2 linked regions of the Homo sapiens genome follow. The protein of the gene in region 1 interacts with the protein of each later gene in a pairwise test. Each region holds a gene or a part of one and is shown on either strand. Other genes may lie near its edges.

The links. Proteins that work in one complex are often made in the same cells at the same time.
Region 2: the proteins of SEC22A (region 1) and MS4A3 interact in binary tests that used the Homo sapiens proteins (3 or more experiments, as listed by UniProt).

Annotation. Positions count from the first base shown.
Region 1 is NC_000003.12:123,239,933-123,246,955, forward strand, and holds part of SEC22A (vesicle-trafficking protein SEC22a), read left to right. Parts: intron 1-5,966; coding exon 5,967-6,082; intron 6,083-7,023. UniProt on the Homo sapiens protein: May be involved in vesicle transport between the ER and the Golgi complex.
Region 2 is NC_000011.10:60,052,236-60,059,673, forward strand, and holds the start of MS4A3 (membrane-spanning 4-domains subfamily A member 3), read left to right. Parts: upstream 1-4,429; 5' UTR 4,430-4,505; intron 4,506-7,438. UniProt on the Homo sapiens protein: Hematopoietic modulator for the G1-S cell cycle transition. Modulates the level of phosphorylation of cyclin-dependent kinase 2 (CDK2) through its direct binding to cyclin-dependent kinase inhibitor 3 (CDKN3/KAP).

The sequences.
Region 1 (7,023 bases):
TTTAAGATTGGCTAGTTTGAATAATTTCAATGGACTCTGGGGCATAGGTTCTATCTCTGGTTGTCTGACATGTGGCCCTGGGATGATTGGGATAGGGAAATAATGGCCCTGGCTGTGAGAGCCTTGTAGAGGAGTTGGTTGGTAGTGTGAGTCTGGATTGATTGGAATGCGTATGAAAGGTGGACTCAGACAAGTTGTTTGCCATCACTAGGAATTAGCTATCCCTGGGAGAGGCAGTTCTTCCATGGTCAGCAAGGCCCAAGAGGTCAAAGCATCAAAAATACAGAATAAAAAGACATGATTACTAAACACCCTTATCACAATATAGGACATTTCCATCTCCCCCGAAAAGTTTCTTTGTGTCCCTTTTCAGTCAATTTCCACCATCCTCTAGACAACGACTGTTTTTATTTTTTTCCACTTGAACTTTGTTTTGTTCCAGAACTTTATATAAAAGAAGACTACATTGTGTGACTATTGTGTTCAGCTTCTTTTGCACAGCATGATGTCATACATACATGTTGCCTGTCTCAGTAATTTGTTCCTTTTTATTCCTGAGCGGTATTCCATTGTATGAATGTACCACAATTTGTTTATTTATTCTCTTGCTGATGGACGTAAACTTGTTTCAGTTTTTGTTATTGCACATAAAGCTACGATGAACATTCATCCTTTTGTTGACATATATTTTCATTTCCCTTGAGTAAATATTAGGAGTGGAATTGATAGGTCAAAAGGTTGCCTGTTTAAGAAACTGCCAGTTTTCTGAAGTAGTTGTAAGATTTTACTTTCCCAACAAGCAATTTGTGAGCATTTTGATTACTCAACATCTTCACCGACATTTAGTGTTGTTAGTCTTTTTACTTTTATGTTGTGCTTTAAAAAAAAAACTTCACAAAACCCTAAATTTAGGGTTTAAACTGATAGAAACACTTCTGTCAGTTTCTTTGACACTTGTATATTTTTCATCTATTTTATCATTTTCTAGAAAATTTGTCAGTTGCCTGAAAATGCTGCTCTGTTTTGGCTGGTGCCCACAAGCCAAATAGATTTACTAATCTCTCTTTCTTACACACACACACACACACACACACACACACACACACACACATCCCCTTCATAATCCAACAGGTATTTATCATTTTTTTTCTCTAAAGTATTATGCTAAATTTTGTGGAGGCATTTTTTAGAAATACAGTAAACACATTAACTGTACTCAGAATGAGAAAGGGAAATACAATCCAATAAGTAAAACACAAAGTAGAATGTGATACATGCTCCAAAAGAGGTAAGAAGGAAGACTCAGGTCTTGGAGCCTTGAAGGATATGCATGATTTTTACAGGTGGTGATGATAAAGAAGGGCCTCACTGATGAAAAGAATAGTGTGTTTTTGTGCCAGACTGTTAGTCTCATTCAGTCACACTTCAGTAATAAATTAGGCTCATTTAGATGGAACTGACTTGAAATTTCTCTCTTATCTTCCACAGTCTGTTTCCCTAGGCATTGTGGGCATCTTTGAGATTTCGAATGGTACCATCTCTTTGAATCGTCATAAGGACTATTCTGGGACTTTGCTTCATCAATTATTTTTCCTTTTTCTTGATTCTTCTATTTCATCTTCACTGAATTATTTCATTCCACCTATGTATGTATTCAAGTCTTCCTCCCTCCCTCCAACACTGTAAGAGAAAAAAGAATTATTTTCTCAATCCTATTATCTCTGTTAAGCTTTCATCCTGTTTTTCTCTCCTTTAACTTCAGTAGTATTCACTTAATGCTTCCACCTCTTAACATCGCCAGTTGTTCAACCTCTTGCAATCTGAATTTGATAAGGAAAATGTGGTTCATATACACAATGGAGTACTGTTCATCCATGAAAAAGATGAGATCCAGTCATTCGCAACAGCATGGAGGGAACTGGAGATCATTAAGTAAAATAAGCCAGGCACAGAAAGACAAACATTGCATGTTCTCACTTATTTGTGAGATCTAAAAAGCCCTCAACCACTTTTCTGGAAAAAAAAAAAAAAATTTTAAGGAGAATCCTAGCATCTCCTGTTCAATAAGTCTAATACTTTTTACTTTAAGGTCAGATTTTTTTTGGCCTATCTATAGGCACTGTTAGCCATATCTTTCTTCTTGATGGTCTCTCCTTCCTAGGTTTCACTTGATTCTCCTGCATCTGCCTTCCCTGACTCTTCTTCCATCCCTTACTGACAGTGTTTACCAAGGATTTCCCTTGGCCTGCTTCTTTCTTTGACGCTCATTTAAACCTTTCCCTTCAGTTGCAGACCTCGTCTGCTTCTCCCAGCTATTCCATTCTTCAGTTGCTTGTTAAACACGGCCCACCATCACCTCAAATATGATGTTAAAATGTCCCCATTTTTTATCAAACTTAAGTTTCTTCCTGTGGATCTGTTGCTCAGTACTCTCATCTTTCCGATCACCTAGAGGTAAAACCTCAACATTTCTTTGAATTTTTTTCCCCCTTTTGTTTGCCACATCTAATTAGTTGCCAAGTCTAATAATTTTAACCTCCATGACATCTTACTTCTTTTTCCCCATTTCTTTTTTTTTTTTAATTTTAGCTTTATTCTTTAATGAACTCCCAAGCACTCAGATTCCCATTTCTACTGTGACTATTCTGATTCAGGCCCTGATTTCAGTCAGTCTTTTGCAGTGACTCTCCCACAAACTTCCTAATGTAGAACTGTAGAAAGAGCATGGGCTCTGCAGTCAGATAGACCTAAGTGCTAATTGTGAAGATGGCCCTTCTGGCTGTCTGACTTATAGAAAATAATTTAATCTTAATTGACAGATGAGAAAGTTTAGGCACAGAAAAGTTAGTCATTCCAGTTCAGTCACAGAGAAGTTAGTCATTTCTACCTCATGAAGTATGCCATTCTGAAGGGTAAATGAGACAATGGGTGCTTAGTGAGAAGGTACTCAGAAAAATATTATTTCTCCCTCCCTTACTTTTGATCTCTTTACAACCCATTAATAGATTAATCTTCTTTAAGTATAACCTTCATCATATGAGAATCTTGTTCTTCAGTGGTTCCCCATTGTCTAATTTTCCATAATTCTTAGCCTAGAATTGTATACTATCAATTTGTGTCCACCTCCCTTTCTGACCTTATTTCTCCCCACTTGTCACAAACATCGCTTTGAGCCAAACCAAACCACTAGCAATGCCCTATAGCAGAATGGCTGAGAACATGAATTCCAGAATCATCTAAATCCCAGTTCACGTACTTACTTTGTGCCCATGAGCAAATTATTTAATGTCCCTAAACCTTTCCTATTCTGGGAGGGGTGGGGAGGGGGCGGGGTGGGGCAGAAAACCAGGATAATTATAGTGCCTACTGCATTGGGTTGTTGGAAGGATACAGTGAGACCAAGTATATAAAGCACTTGGTGCCTGGCGTGTTGAGAGCAGTCACTGTTGGTAGAAGTAGTAGTTGTTGATGCTGTTGTTACTCGTTTCTCCCATTTCCATCTCCATCACATTCACATTCTTTTCTCTGCGTGGAATGCATTTCTTCCCCTTTGTACCTGACTACATTTTATCTATCTTCAAAGCTCTTTCCTGGTTCTAGACCACCCTCCCCCTACTTTATCTTTCCACTTCATCATTCCTTGCCTCTTTTAGCTTAGAATGCTTATTACTTTCATATACTTATCTGTTTTATCTCTTTTATAAAAGACTAGAAGTGCCTTGAGGGCAGAATATGTAATTCAATTTTTGTATCTTCGAAAGCATAGCATCTTACACAGAACCATGCCAGAAAGTATTTACTGAATAAATATATTAATTTACTGTAACCAATAGCTCTTTGGTTCCTTTGGTTCTAAGGGGTTTATTCTTACTTCTTTAGGAACTTTTGCAGAGTCTCCATAAACCATTGGTACATTTTCAGAAACATTTAATTTTGTTATCAACATGCCATCCTTGGGTTCAAGAAGACTAAAGAAAAGACTTTATAGGAGAAGGCAATAATAACAAAAGCAAAACAAAAACTGACCAGATGACACTGCTTTGGATTCAGCAAAATTATTGTTTTTCTACACTGCCTCTTATTTGTTATTGTTACAAACATTCTACACCAAATATTATAGTACCTAGAATGGTGCCAAATTAAGCATTTTTGGATAATAGTGGATCTAAAATCTGTTTTACTGAAGTAAAAAAAATAACAAATAGTTAATACATTAAAATGTGATTAAATATCTAGTTCAGTTTGTTAAAATGAGAAATTATTAAGAAGTGTCACCTTCTTATGTTGTGGGCAGATGGAGTATTCTCTTGATAACTTCTCAAGGAACAAGCCACAGAACCTGGGAAGTGGGTGGGGGCGGAAGTGGGGGAATCTCTAGAATTTCTTCCCCACAGTGATTTGGCACAACGCCAGCTGTCCTTCAGCAAAGGTGTACTGTGTTCTTGTTAAAGGAGACTTATGCTTTTTAAAGGCTTTTATGCCTTTAAATGTATAGACGAATTAGATAGATTTTTAAATCGTGAATTTTTTTTTCTTTACTGATATAACACTTGGAAGCAATATTGAATAGTGACATTTAATTTTCTGTTGTCATATTACAATATCAAGGAAATTGATTGAGAGCAGGCAGCTTGGGCACCAGAGAAGTTTAAGAAAATGTTATATAAGCACTTTCTGCTGAACTTGGGGAATAAATACTTTTTTGTGATATGTAGATTCTTGTGTTTTTATAACTGTTTAGGGAAGATGTTCTGCTATAATGGCTGAATATAAGTTGCAGAGATTTAAACCCGCCCTTATATTAATGTTCCACCTCATTAACTTAATTGTTAGGGCGTTTACACTTCAGTGATTTAAATAAAATACTCTAAATGTGGTTCTGTTGTCTTTCCCTCTGTCTCCTGTTTGAGGTCTAGATGATTATGTATTTAGTTATGTGTTTTCATGTAGACCCTGTTGTTAATTCTATTAAGCGTAAGATGATGATGAAGGGAAGCTATTGTATAACTTTTGTGCTGCTGCAGCCCTGGAAGATAAGGGAATGTATTTATGAAACTAAAATGGTCACTTATTCAGCTGGTGTTTTGTCATTTTTACCTTCCAGTGTTATTCAGAGGACCAGGAACTTCATAGCTATAAGACTCCATTCTGTTTTGGAGTTCAGATTGCTGATTATATATGAGCTTTCACATGTATCCAGTGATATTTATAGCCCTAGAACCCAGATAAGGCAAAGTTTTGCTTAAAAGTAAGCTATGTTTGTACTTTAAAATGTTTCCTAAGCATTTTCAGAAAAAGTAGGATTATGCAATGAATTTCCAAGCAAAGTCACCTTTACAAATACTTTCACCTACCTGCAAATAGTAGACATATTTATGCAGTAAGGTTTTTTCTAAATGATTTACTGCCGGTTGTGAGCATCCCTTAGCACTGTCTATCCCAAATGCAAGTTACATGTCTTTGTTAAAAACATAGAGAAAGGCCAGATGCAATGTCTCATGCCTGTAATACCAGCACTTTGGGAGGCCAAGGTCAGAGGATCACTTGAGGCCGGGAGTTCAAGACCAGCTTGGGCAACATAGTGAGACTCTGTCTCTATAAACAATTCAAGAAAAAATTAGCCAGGCATGGTGGCACGTGCCTGTAATCGTAGATAGTCGGGAATCTGAGGCACGAGGGTCGCTTGAGCCCTTGAGTTTGAGGCTTGTAGCGAGCTGTGATTGTGACCCTGTCTCAAAAAAAAAGGAAAAAGAGAAAAATAAGTTAATTTTTCAGGGAAATGAAGCTTTTATGTTGTCAAGCATTTTTCATTTTATAACAGTATTTAATTGTGAATATATGGTGTTAAATAATTCTATGAAGTATCTGCTTGACCCATTTAAGTTGAGCAGTGAATTTCTGTTTTACCTAAGTTCATCTTTGTGAGGTATTGGTGTTCATTTCTAACTATTTCTTTTATTTTCCAGCTCACCAGCGACTGGAACCAGCAACTCTGTCAGGGATTGTAGGATTTATCCTTAGTCTTTTATGTGGAGCTCTGAATTTAATTCGAGGCTTTCATGCTATAGAAAGTCTCCTGCAGGTACTGTGCTATTTTTGCAATTTCAGGTGACTGTGCCTCTTCATTCTACTGGTTACATAATTGATTTGAATTGGATTGGGTATTAGTATAATTTACAGTGCATACTCAAAATCTATGTTTTTTTATATCTGCTTTAGCCTCCTTCTAAAAACACTGGTTGGCTTCTTTGATTCCATTGGCACATGTTTATCATCTGCTCTTTAGGAGGCACTATTTATAGGCACCCTGGGGACCCCAAGATGTGTGTGACATAGGCCTTGCAGTCTCATAACTGAAAGTTGAACTGGGGAGGCAAGAAAGTAATTGCCAAATACACAGAGTTGGGAAGGGGGAGAGGTCAGTATAATCAGGATTGGAGAAGGAAGGTTTTGTGGAGGAGAGTTGAACTGGTCCTGGAAAGATCTGATCAGACAGAGAGCAGTGGAAGAATGAAGAGGGCACACGTGGGCTGTGTTTATTCCACTTCTGTGTATTCCCTACTTAGTTCATCTGCTTCTTTTTCTTTTTTTGTTAGTGGCTTCTTAAAACTTGAGCTTCCTAGAAAACCACAAATTTATTCAGATATTGCTAACTATTACATTTTCAAGTGGAGTTCCTTTCAGAAGCTATAGCTATCAGAATATACTAATTTTTTCTCTTATGCTTTTTGTAAACTTTTTGAAATTTTTTTTTAAGTTTAGCACATTTGAGACTGCACAGCTTTCCTTTCCCTTATTTCTATTCACTTTCTCTGAAGAACTCTTGACACTCTCACATTATGAATCAGTCCTCTTTTTTTGGTCAGCATTAAGTGCAGAATACCATTTGTAAAAATCCACTGAGCACACTTTATATTCTGTTTTTAAATTGCTGTTAGTTTGGGGAACCCTCAGAGGGTATCTTTCTGCATCTGTTTAGCCATGTAAAGCCAACAGCAGATGACATCACAGGTTCCAGCAGCA
Region 2 (7,438 bases), on another chromosome or scaffold:
CGTTACCTTGGGACCTTTAAAAAATGTTTGTGTTGGGCTGAGTGCAGTGGCTCATGCCTGTAATCCTAGCACCTTGGGAGTTTGAGGCGCGTGGATTACTTGAGGCCAGGAGTTCAAGACCAGCCTGGTCAACATGGTGAAACCCTGTCTCTACTAAAAAAAATAGAAAAATTAACTGGGCATGGTGGTGTGCCCCTGTAATCCCACCTACTCAGGAGGCTGAGGCACAAGAATCGCCTGAACCTGGGAGGCAGAGGCTGCAGTGAGCCGAGATTGTGCCATGGCACTCCAGCCTGGGCAACAGAGTAAGACTGTCTCAAAAAAAAAAAAAAAAAAAAGTTCACCTTCATGTTGGGTTCATGACAAATATCCTGATTTAATGTCTTATAAACTTCCCAGAAGATTCCACTAGGTAGTTGAAAGTAGAACTGTTGTATTAGCATTTTCTATCTAGGCTATTTCCATGTTTACCAATAAATGACATGATAAATTCTTCCAGTTTTCTTAGGACCTCTAAAACAACAGTGCCTTCATTCAAATGCTAAGATTGGATTTCTAGTCCATTTTCCTCGTTTATTTGAAAACACAGCATGAGGTCAAAACAAGAATGAATCAAAGGTAGTTTCTGATTGTTGGTTTTATTTGATGGCTCATTATTTCAAGACCTCTTGGAACAACAATCCTTGTCCGTCTTAATCTTTTATTAATCTTACAATTATAGTAACTAATGCCATTTCAACGTGATTTCAACTTGTGACTTTTGCAACATTATAAACTGGTAAATTATGAATTAAACACGTTTAATGCACCCCAAAGTCAAAAACCTTAGGTGGTTAAGTGTTTTAAGAGCTTATACATGTGTTAAGATATATAAAGGTACTGCTTCATGAAGAATGTGATTTTAATATGTACACACATGGGCATGAGTGTGTATGGGGGGGTAAAACAGACAGTGCAAGCAATAATATTTAGTAAGTAGATAAGACCAGCAAGTCTTGAGAAATATATTGCTTTTTAGTCAAATGGGGCACTTGTAAATGAATAGCTAGACTATAGGTGAATTCACTCGAAGATTTCCTTTTCCTTTTGGAAATTTGCTACTTGAGTTTTGAACTTGATTATTCTTTAAGGTATTTCAGCACTGAAAGCTAGTCAGTCTCTCCTTGATCATGTCTCCTTGCCATTGGGAAATATTGCATGCAAGTGGAAAAAAGGTCTATGAATCTTCTATTTTTCCCTTTTTAATTTGTTTAAAAAATTTTTTAATTTATTTATTTTTATTTATCAGCCATAAAAAAGAATAAGATCCAGTCATTTGCAACAACATGAATGGAACTGGAGATCATTCTGTCAAGTGCAATAAGCCAGGCACAGAAAAACAAACATCACATGTTCTCACTTGTGGGATCTAAAAACCAAAACAATTGAACTCATGAAGACAGAAAGTAGAAGGATGGTTACCAGAGGCTGGGAAGGGTAGTGGGGGCCTGGGAGGGGAGGTGGGGATGGTTAATGGGTACAAAAAAATAGAATAAATAAGACCCACTATTTGATAGCAAAACAGGGTGACTGTAGTCAATAACTGTACATTTTTAAGATAAAGAGTGTAATTGGATTGTTTGCAATGCAATGGATAACTGCTTAAGGGGATGGATACCCCATTCTTCATGATGTGAGTATTATGCATTTCATGCCTGTATCAAAATGTCTCATGTACCTCATAAGTATATACACTAGGTACTTACAAAAATGGAAAAAATAGGGGGCCGGGCGTGGTGGCTCATGCCTGTAATCCCAGCACTTTGGGAGGCCGAGGCAGGTGGATCACGAGGTCAAGAGATCGAGACAATCCTGCCCAACGTGGTGAAACCCCATCTCTACTGAAAATACAAAAATTAGCTGGGCGTTGTGGTGTGTGCCTGTAGTCCCAGCTACTCGGGAGTCTGAGGCAGGAGAATTGCTTGAACCCGGAGGCGGAGCTTGCAGTGAGCTGAGATCGCGCCACTGCACTCCAGCCTGGTGACAGAGTGAGACTCTGTCTCAAATAAATACATAAAAAATAAAAATAATTTTTATGTATTTATTTTACTGTTCCCCCCTCAGCTTTAATGAGGTACAGTCAGATACATATGTTCTGCAGATCTAATGAACAGCATGATAACTGAAGTTAATACTGTACTATGTACTTGAAGTTTAAGAGAGGAGATCTTAAATGTTCTCACCACCACCACCAAAAAAAAAAAAAGATGATTATGTGATCTGATGTGATCAGTAGATTATCTGCTTTGTGTTAGTGACTTCACAATGCACACATGTGTCAAAACATGTTGTACATGGTAAGTATATTAAATTTTTATTTGTGAATCTTCCTTTGAAAGCAGTTTCTCACAATCATTCTCTAAGGAATTGAAGAAAGAGCTCAATCATTTTTATTATTTACTTTGAACTCATGTGAAGATCTTAGTTATTAAGACCTTTACATGCATTCTGTCATTTATACTTTATACCCCAAAGTGGGCACTATGATCTTCAACTTACAAATGGGAGAACCGAAGTCTTAGAGTTTAAGTAACTTCCTTTCATGGCTTTTTCTACAGCTCCAAATTCAAAAAGAGCATGTTGAAAGCATCCACTCTTTCCTTTCATTTCTTCAGATTTCTTTCTCTTCTTCGCTGAAGGCATTTTCTTGTCATCTCTTTCTTCTTCAGTATTCCATTTGCAATGGTTCTGGATAAAACGGGGAGGGAAGGATCTTATCTTTACCACCTTCCTTTTGGCTATTTCCTTCTGACTTCTGTCTCTGTCTCTGTCTTCTCTTTCATCAGTCCCTTCCTTCGCTCCTAAATGTAGACCCTGGAGAGCCGCTGCCCTAGGGCTCAGGTGCCAGCTCTCTTAGCAGAAGCACCTGTGCAGAAATTTTCTGGCAACTGGGCCCCTGCTCATTTCATATTCACAATCTCTGCCCACACACTATGTTTTGGTCTTGGTAACTGGCCCTCTTTCTCTTTCCTGTGATCACGTCCCCACTGACGCTCCTGTTTGTAGGACTAGGACCTCGCTTTCCTTGCTGTGAACATTCTTCTCTGTCTCACAGACTCCCCTGGGGCATGGATCAGGGGCTGTGCCCTCATTCTTTCTCTCAGGCCTGGCCCTGTGACCTTCATAAGGATTGTGGTTTGAATCTTCACGTTACCTACTTCCTTACTCCTTGTCACTTGGCTCTGATCTTTCTATTGCCTATTTTAGGACATTTATTTAGGATAAGCATATAATTTGGCCACTTTTGAAACTGAAAGGAGGCCGGGCGCGATGGCTCATGCCTGTAATCCCAGCACTTTGGGAGGCTGAGGCAGGTGAATCACCGGAGGTCAGGAGTTCGAGACCAGCATGACCAATACGGTGAAACCCTGTCTCTACTAAAAATACAAAAATTAGCTGGGAGTGGTGGTGCATGCCTGTAGTTGCAGCTATTCAGGAGGCTGGAACAGGAGAATTGCTTGAACCCGGGAGGCGGAGGTTGCAGTAAGCCAAGATTGCACCATTGCATTCCAGCCTGGATGACAGAGTGAGACGCCATCTCAATAAACAAACGAAACAAACAAACAAATACAAAAAACCTAAAAAAACCAAAAAACAAAAAAGAAACTGAAAGGAGGGGTTTTAACAATCATATTAGGATAACAGGCACACTTCGGGCTTCACCATTGTACAAAACAGAGATTTTGCACAGGGCTTTTCCAGTTAAATTTTAGGAAAGCTGGGTAACATTTCTATACCATAGTTTTCTCTACCATAACATCGGGTTAATAGTAGTACCTGGGTCCTGGGTTATTGTGAGGATGAGATGAATTAACATATGTAAAGCATTCAGAACAATGACCTGTATGTAGTAACCATTTAATACATTTAAACAATAATTAGCATTATTATTATATCTGTGATATTGGGCAAAGTAATTAACCTCTCTAAGCATGTAAGAATTGAATGTCATCACGCATATAAGGTACATAGCACCGTTGCTGGCACATCATGTAAAATAAGTGCCTGAGTGACCACCTCCCTCCTCCAGATGCTTCTCTTACAGTGTGACTTTGTCTCTTCTTGCTATGCACCTAACACTGTTCTACCTCCAACCCACAACCTCTTCCCACTTGTCTACCCATATTGTTGCTTGTGTTTCCTGTTCCAGCAATGTGTTAAGCAACATCTGAAAGCCAGAAGACAGTTATCCCTCACACCAGTTTCCTAATCATCACTAAGCCCTGGGGAAACACAATGGATCAGCGAGGCCCCAAATGCAGATGTGATTAGCACACTGGTCAGTCAGCCCGCAAAACACTTTCACCAAGTCCTCTAAAGTGTTGCATAAGGCAAAGATAACGTTAAGTCTGTGGAGGCTTCCGTTATCGGGAAAAGATGCTGTAGTGATCTTTTCTGAGTGTCTCCTACTTGCGACAAGGTGGACTTGGGAGGAAAGCCGTCTGCCAAAGCCTGAAGCCTCCAAGGTATAGATTCCCTCTCCATAGACATTCCCCTTTCTTTTATATCTTTCGTTAAAATGCCTCCCAGTGGACTACTGGGGATGTCTGCAAAGGTCTCTGTTTGGTTGCTATGTAGAGGTTTGGAACATTTAACTGTGAACATGGCTTCTCTTTAGGATGTGATGATTCCTTTGGAGCCATGATAAAAAGTGTTAGACATAATAATACAGCAATTTCTTTGGGAAAATGTGGGTATGGATACACACACATGCACACGCACCTCTTAGGTACATTAAATCCCACTGGCTGCACCTGAGTTTGTCTGCCAGCTCTGATGATGAGGGGTGGTCTCGATATGCCTGAAGTATGGGGTCTGCAAAGTGCATTTTAGCATAGCTCAGGGGACAGTGGAGTGTAATGATAGCTTGAGGTTCTGATTTTTAGCTTCTCAAATTGCTGGCTGTGTGGGCTTGGGAAAGCTACTTAACTTCTTTGTTCCTCAGCTTCTTCATCTGTTAGATGGAAAGGATCATAGCAGTAGTACCCATTCATCTGATGTTGTGAGAACTAAATTAGTAAACATGGATAAAGCCCTTAGAACAAATGCCTGCCACATACTAAGAGCTGGAGAGATGAACTTAACTGGCAGTTTCCTAGAAAATCTACATTTCTCTGATTTTGTGTGTGTGTGTGTGTGTGTGAGAGAGAGACAGAGTCTCGCTCTGTCACCCAGGCTGGAGTGCAATGGCACGATTTCGGCTCACTGCAAACTCCGCCTCATGGGTTCAAACAATTCTCCTGCCTCAGCCTCCTGAGTAGCTGGGATTACAGGCGCGTGCTGTCACAACCAGCTAATTTTATGTGTTTTTAGTAGAAACAGGGTTTCACCATGTTAGCAAGGATGATCTCAATCTCCTGACCTTGAGATCCTCCCGCCTCTGCCTCCCAAAGTGCTGGGATTACAGGCATGAGCCACTGCACCCGGACCATTTCTCTGATTTTTTTAAAAATAAATAACTGATTTAACCAAATTTTAGAAAACATAGTTTGTTTCACCTGGAGGCTGAAAATTCTCCCTGATTATTTTGATTATTTGAAACAAATCAAGTTAAATAATATGGTTAGATATTTGCTCTCTTCAGAAATGCTCTTGGAGTTTCTTGAGATGAGAGGCTCCAGTGCTTGCAGAGGTATTTTCCATCATCATTTATCAGGATGGCTACCTTGGGCTGGACCAAAAGTCTGGTTACTGATTGAACATGTGTGTTAACTGAGTGCTTGCCATCTGATGATTCTGAGCTAGGCACTGGAGTTGCAGTGATGAGTAGACAACGAGGTAACAGACAAGTATCCAGGCAATTAAAGCTCAGGCTGATTAAGTGGTATGAGAAGGAAAGTTGAGGAAATTTTGAGAGCAACCCAAAGGGGTGCATGCTTCTTCCAGAGTTGGCCAGGACTAAAAACAGCATCCTGGAAGTATGACATGTGGGCTGAAAATCAGTCTGGAAGGGCCGGGCGCATTGATTCACGCCTGTAATCCCAGCACTTTGGGAGGCTGAGGTGGGTGGATCACCTAGGTCAAGAGTTCGAGACCAGCCTGGCCAACATGGTAAAACCCCATCTCTACTAAAAGTACAAAAATTAGCTGGGTGTGGTGGTGCACGCCTGTAATCCCAGCTACTTGGGAGGCTGAGGCAGGATCATAGCTTGAGCCCAGGAGGCGGAGGTTGCAGTGAGCTGAGATCGGGCCTCTGCACTCCAGCCTGGGAGACAGAGCAAAGCTCCAACTCAAAAAAAAAAAAAAAAAAAAAAAAAAAAAAAAAAAATTCAGTCTGGAAGGAGAGCAGAAATTATCCAGGTGAAGCTTGAGGGGACTTGTCTTTCAGGAATGGGGGATAGCACAGAGGATTGAAGACATTTGAGGGTTTAGAACTTCTGAAGGAAGACAAATCAAGAAAATAAGGCTGGATGGAGTTTTGAGATAGGGATGGGTGAGGGGTGAGGCAGGAGACGTAGGCGAGAGATTATCTGGTCATAAAGCAGCAACATTCTCCGTATTGCATGCATCTTAGTTCATTAGATATTTAATCCAAAATACACACAAATTTCCCAGTGGATAAATTTGAAGTCTTGGCTTTTTGGCTATTCTTATTTATACTTTTTGCAGATAATTACGTTAGGAACTTATTCACATAGAGTTTGCTTTAAGCTTTATTGATCTTCCCTCGCTCTTGGGTTCTGTACAGTGTTGAACACGGGGGGTTAAGGGTTCCTTGTCATTTCACATTTATCCATACTTAAATACATACAGAATGTAATTTAATCTTGGCATGAAAATCAATATTGGTAGGAAACTTTGATGAAGAGTATTGGTAGCAAAATTTTATGACATTTATAATAAATGTTTTATCAGTATTGGTAGAGAATTTTATGAATTTTTATAGCAATTCCCAGTGTAATAATAAAACATGGCTTGACTCTCACTTTTAGTCAATGCTTAGTAAATTTGTCATCACACTTAAATGAGTCATACACACCCCCAGAGTAGAGTATCAGAAAGGTAAACATCCTGAAAGTGGCGTGTATTTAGCTTGACAAAAAATTAAGTTATTAGAAAAATGGATCTAGTATATAATTTGTAACAAAGAGTAGAAATTAAGATACTATACTTTCTTTTTCAATAAAAAGCTTTTATTTTAGGTTTACGGGTACATGTACAGGTTCGTTATATAGGTAAATTCGTGCCACAGGGGTGTGTTGTGCAGATTGTCACCCAGGTACTAAGCCTAGTACTCAATAGTTATTTTTCCCGATCTCCTCCCTCCTCTCTCTGATAATCTCCAGTTGTTTTGTTCCCCTCTATGTGTCCATTTGTTCTTAGCATTTAGCTCCCACTTATAAGTGAGAATATGTGGTATTTGGTTTTCTGTTCCTGTATTAGCTTTCTAAGGATAATG